Regions from separate parts of the Homo sapiens genome. Here region 1 is linked to region 2. The links come from fine-mapping of genetic effects on gene expression. A gene starts in region 2. The other region holds a variant in brackets. All regions are shown on one strand. Distances are from middle to middle. Region 1 has its middle 30 kb from the start of ACVR2B. Region 2 holds the start of ACVR2B (activin A receptor type 2B).

Region 1 (2,908 bases), 30 kb before region 2:
GTTTTCCTTTTGTAATGGGACTGTTAAAGAATGTTGCTGTCTCCAGTCAGATGATGCCAGCGGTATGGCAGGATCACTTCTAGGTAGGTCTAATTTACATTTAAAAGGAGTACAAGTACAAACAGGAGTCATTGATTCAGATTACAGTGGGGAAATTCAAATTGTTATATCTACTTCTGTTCCCTGGAAAGCAGAGCCAGGAGAGTGTATAGCACAACTCCTGATTGTGCCATATGTGGAAATGGGGAGAAGTGAAACTAAACAGACAGGAGGATCTGGAAGTACAAATAAGCAAGGGAGAGCAGCTTACTGGGTAAATCAAATTACTGATAAACATCCTACCTGTGAAATAACTATTCAGGGAAAGAAATTCAAAGGGTTGGGAGATACAGGAGCGGACGTTTCAATCATTTCTCTACAGCACTGGCCGTCTGTGTGGCCAATTCAATCCGCTCAATTTAACATAGTTGGAGTTGGTAAAGCCCCTGAAGTATATCAAAGTATTTATATTTTGCATTGTGAAGGACCCCATGAACAATCTGGGACTATTCAGCCAATTGTAACTTCTGTACCTATAAATTTATGGGGGAGAGATTTATTACAGCAATGGGGAGCACAAGTTCCCCATTACATAGAACAATTATATAGCCCTCAAAGTCAGCATGTGATACAAGAGATGGGGTATGTGCCTGGCATGGGATTAGAAAAAAATTTACAAGGGTTAAAAAAACCAGTTCAAGCGGAAGGAAAAAATTCTTGTCAGGGTTTAGGGTATCATTTTTGATGGCGGCCATTGTTAAGCCTCCGGAACCTATACCTTTAAAATGGTTAACAAGTAAGCCAATTTGGATAGAACAATGGTTGCTGAGTAAAGAAGAACTGGAGGCTTTAGAGGTCTTAGTTACTGAACAATTAGAAAAAGGACATATAGCTCTAACGTTTCCCCCCTGGAATTCTCCACTCTTTGTTATTATTATTATTATTTTTCTTAAGATGGAGTCTCGCTCTGCTGCCCAGGCTGGAGTGCAGTGGTGCGATCTTGGCTCACTGCAAGCTCCGCCTCCTGGGTTCATGCCATTCTCCTGCCTCAGCCTCC[C/T]GAGTAGCTGGGACTATAGGCGCCCACCACCACGCCCGGCTAATTTTTTGTATTTTTAGTGGAGACGGGGTTTCACTGCATTAGCCAGGATGGTCTCGATCTCCTGACCTTGTGATCCACCCACCTTGGCCTCCCAAAGTGCTGGGATTACAGGTGTGAGCCACCATGCCCAGCCCTCCAGTCTTTGTTAAGAAAAAATGTGATAAATGGAGAATGTTGACAGATCTTAGAGCCATTAATTCGGTTAGACAACCTATGGGAGCATTGCAGCCTGGACTGCCTTCTGCTGCTATGATTCCAAAAAATTGGCCTTTAATAGTCATAGATTTAAAAGACTGTTTCTTTATTATCCCCTTAGCTGAGCAAGACTGTGAATGGTTTGCATTTACAATTCCTGTGGTAAACAACCTGCAGCCTGCTTAGCGTTTTCATTGGAAAGTGTTGCCACAAGGCATGTTAAACAGTCCAATGATTTGTCAGACTTATGTAGGACAAGCAATTGAACCTACTCGTAAAAAATTTTCACAGTGTTACATTATTCATTATATGGATGATATACTTTGTGCTGCCCCCACTCAGGAAATATTACTCCAATGTTATAATCACTTGCAAAACTCGATTTCTCATGCTGATTTAATTATAGCTCCTGACAAAATTCAGACTACTACTCCTTACTCCTACTTGGGGACCTTAGTAAATGACACTACCATTGTGCCACAGAAAGTAACCATACATAGGGATCAATTGAAAACATTGAATGACTTTCAAAAATTACTGGAAAACATTAATTGGATATGACCTGCTCTAGGCATTCCTACCTCTGCCATGAGTAATCTCTTTTCTATCCTTAGAGGAGATCCCAGTCTCACAAACCCTTGGCAATTAACAAAGGAGGCTGAGGCAGAGTTACAGCTGATTGAAAAGCAAGTGCATAAAGCTCAAATAAATAGAATAGATCCAGAAAAGATCCAGAAAAGATTGATTTTTCCAACTCAGCATTCACCTACTGGTGTTGTTGTTCAAGAGCAAGATCTTGTAGAATGGCTTTTTCTTCCACATACTAATCCATGGACTCTAACTCCTTATTTGGATCAAATTGCTACTCTGATAGGAAATGGGAGAACTCAAATTGTTAAATTACAAGGATATGATCCTGGAAAAATTTTTGTTCCCCTTACAAAGGCACAAATACAAAAAGCCTTTATAAATAGTCTTAATTGCAAACCCATTTAGCTGATTTCATAGGTGTTCTTGATAATCACTTTCCAAAGACAAAATTATTTCAATTTTTGAAATTAACTAATTGGATTCTCCCTAGAATAACTAAATTTAAACGAATTGAAGGTGCGGAAAATGTTTTTACAGATGGGTCTAGTAATGGTGAAGCTTCTAACTCTGGATCAAAAAGTAAAGTTTTCCAGACGCCCTATACTTCAGCTCAAAAAGCAGAGCTTGTAGTTGTAATTGAGGTGCTGACGGTTTTGAGATGCCTGTCAATGTAATTTCTGATTCTTCATACGTGGTTCATTCCACACAATTAATTGAAAATGTTCAGTTACAATTTCATGCAGATAAACAACTGATGACTTTATTTACCCAATTGCAAACAGCAGTTAAGAGTAGAATGCACCCTTTTTACATAACTCGTATTAGAGGTCATACACCTCTTCCAGGACCTTTGACTGCAGGAAATCAAATTGCTGATTGCCTAGTTGCTATGGCATTATCTAATGCTAGACACTTTGATAATTTAACCCATGTTAATGCCTCTGGTCTCAAACGCAGATACAGCATTACCTGGAAAGAAGCTAA
Region 2 (2,908 bases):
CAGATACCTTATACACAGCTAGGGTGTCCCATACAACACTGCTTCTTGCTTGGCACACAGTCGCATAGTATTCAATCCTGTGTTAAATGGCTTAGATAATAAGTCACCTGTAGGGATTATAGCAAGCAGGGACCATCATTTTCACATAGAATTTCCCAGGACTGGAAGGGACTTTTAAAGACCCAGAAATCTTTCTGGGCAGTGCCTCCAAAGTGTGGCCCCTGAGGTGTTCCTGCTGCTCTGGTGACCGGGGGTAGTTGACCCTATTTCAATGTCAATCAGAACAATATACATTCCTTTATAAACTTGTTTTTTTTTTGAGAGAGAGTCTCACTCTGTCACCTAGGATGGAGTGCAGTGGTGCAATCTCAGCTCACTGCAACCTCCGCCTCCCTCCTGTGTTCAAGCGATTCTCCTGCCTCAGCCTCCTACCGAGTAGTTGGAATTACAGGTGTGTGTCACCATGCCCAGCTAATTTTTGTATTATTTAGTAGAGACAGGTTTTTGCCATGTTGGTCAGGCTGGTCTCGAACTCCTGACCTCAAGAGCCTCCTGGGCCTCTAAAAGTGCTGGAATTACAGGTTTGAGCCACCTCGCCCTGCCTATAGTGAACATTTACATAATATTTTGTTTGACTAGGTTTCTGCCATTAAGAAGATGCAAAACCCTGAGGGAGTGTACCTCTTCACTTTGCATATGGGAAAACTGAGGCTCAGAGAAGTGAAATGACTGAGACCTCCAGGTGCCACCTCCCTTTCAGCTGCTCCTGCCCTGCTCCAAGCAAGGATGTGCCAAGTCAAGAGAAGACAGAGGACAATTAATGTTATCTGAGGATCTCGGAGCCTCATCCCTGAGCTATGATGGTCTTTCCCTCCTTAGTTGGGAGCCCCATCACGTTCCTCCGAAGCTCTAGTTGTGTGATAAGGAGGGTGGAATCTGAGACAGAGAACGATGGCCCTCCAAGGAGGGAGTTCGGGGTGAGGAAAACAGCAAAACCATGTGCTAGACAAGATCTTCAACTGCAGGGCTCTGGAGGCAACTGGGAAGTTTTGAAAGTGCAGATTGAAGCTCAGGGCCGCTGTGGGTGGCGCAGGAACTGCAGAAGACAAGATAGGATTAGGGAGGGCCAGCAGGTTGCCAGAGGCCCTTTTCCACCTGCTGGGCTTAGAGGGGCGGGACTCTGCCCGCTCCCTCACTTGGTTGGGTTTAAATGACCACTCCCCGCCCTAGCTGTGCCTTTGAGTGTGTGGCAAGGGATTGCAGACGGGAGACTGCTTGTCAATTCAGGGAAGTCAGCCTCTTTCTGCCACTTAATTCGCCCATCAGTAGAGATCCGACTTTCCCACGGTTCACTGTCACCCCCATTGCACAGGTGGGGAATCCAAGGCACAGAGGCGTCTGGGCCAGAGTCCCGGGACTATCCACTCATTCCGGGGTTGTAGGGCAGCATGTGTCAGGAGCTTGGGCTCGAGCGTGCGGGGCACTAATTGCGAGTGCAGTGGCCACAGGCTCCCGGGCAAAGTGGTCAGGAGCCCATTCCCGCCACCTCCGTCCGCGCGCCCCGCCCTGTCCTCCAGCAAGTTGGTGCACGCGCGTCCTCCCACAGGGCGCGGGATGGGGGCGGGGCCTCCGTGTTGTTGTTTCTCTGGGGCCCCGCCCCTCAGGGGGGCGCGGACCACGCGGCCGGAGGGCCCGCCTCCCCTCCCCCTCCCCGCCCAGCCCGCCCGCCTCTTTGTATCCAACATCCGGGTTTCCCCGCTGGCTCGGCTCCGTGGCCGCCGCTCAGGAGCCATTTTGGACTCGGTTCAGCTCCCCTCCCCCCCACCCCTCCCCCCGTTCATGGCCCCTCCGGACTCGGCCCCTGCGCCCGGGGCCCGGGCCCAGCCCCGCCGCGCTATGCCTGAGTCGGGCGCGCCCCGGCCCGTGCCCCGCCGCCGCCCCCCGGCCCCCGCGTCGCCCCGGAGCCCGGGCCGCAGCCTGCGCCGCCCGCAGCGGCCCTGAGCCCGGCCCCGCCGACCGGCCCTTGGAGCCCGAACGCTGCTCGGGGACGAAGGCGCAGGAAGCGCGCAGGGAACGAGACCGAAGGAAGGAGCGGGAAGGAGAGCGCAGCCGCCGCCTGGCCCTGCGCGCCCCGGGAGCGCCGTGCGGCCCTGCCCGCGGGCTCCGGGTGTGCGCGGGGCGGCGCCGCGGAACATGACGGCGCCCTGGGTGGCCCTCGCCCTCCTCTGGGGATCGCTGTGCGCCGGTAAGAACTGGGCGCGGCGCGGGGACGCCGAGAGGGCGCGCGGGGCTGGCCTCTGGCGCCGCGCGGTGTTTACCAACAAAGGGCGGGCCCGGGGCCTCGTCGCCGCACCACCTGTATTCAGCCCTCACCTCCGGGGGCGTGGGCTGGGGGCGCGGTGGGCGCCCGGCTCGCCGAACTTGGGGGCACGATCTTGTCTGTGCAGTCATCTGCGGGATTCTGGTTCCTAGAGGCGCCCCTGCGATGGGGGCCGGGACGCGGAGCCTCAGGGTCGGAGTTCGGGCTACGCGGGCGCGTGGAACCCAGGGAAAGAGTGAGGAAAACCTGAGCGTGGGGAAGGCGGCCAAGAGGGGTGGGCAGATCTCATTGGGGGTGGCAGGATTGTAGGTGCAGCAGCAGCAGCAGCATGCGGGGAGGGTTGCATGTCCCTCAGAGTCACTAAGTGTAGCGAAGCGAAGGGGGCGGCTTCACGCAGCCCAAAGTCCCCTGCATCTCTTGCCACCAGTCTGCGTCGCGTTACCGGCCCGGCGGGCTGTTGGTGCTGGCTCCCACCTGCTCCCTCTTTCCCTGCCGTTGGCCCCGGGATGCGGAGTGTGGTCGCTTCGCGGGACCGCTTTGTTTGGGCACTTGGGAGGGGAGGGGGTGGGTAAGATGGAAAACCCAACA

Evidence for each region.
Region 1: its variant is fine-mapped to the expression of ACVR2B in whole blood (TOPMed, PIP 0.93).

Annotation. Positions count from the first base shown.
Region 1 is chr3:38,422,101-38,425,008 of GRCh38, forward strand. It overlaps a transcript of XYLB not described here. Among named protein-coding and RNA genes, the nearest start is that of ACVR2B, 30 kb to the right of the region's middle. The variant C/T (reference allele first, on the strand shown) is at 1,097.
Region 2 is chr3:38,452,130-38,455,037 of GRCh38, forward strand. It overlaps ACVR2B (activin A receptor type 2B), which reads left to right and starts at 1,761. Exons shown (of 11, transcript NM_001106.4): 1 at 1,761-2,245. The coding sequence starts at 2,194. It overlaps ACVR2B-AS1 (ACVR2B antisense RNA 1), which reads right to left and starts at 2,691. Exons shown (of 2, transcript NR_028389.1): 1 at 2,374-2,691; 2 at 1-1,096. It also overlaps a transcript of XYLB not described here. RefSeq lists enhancers at 1,343-1,842, 2,447-2,908 and silencers at 1,561-1,610, 1,621-1,740, 2,161-2,440.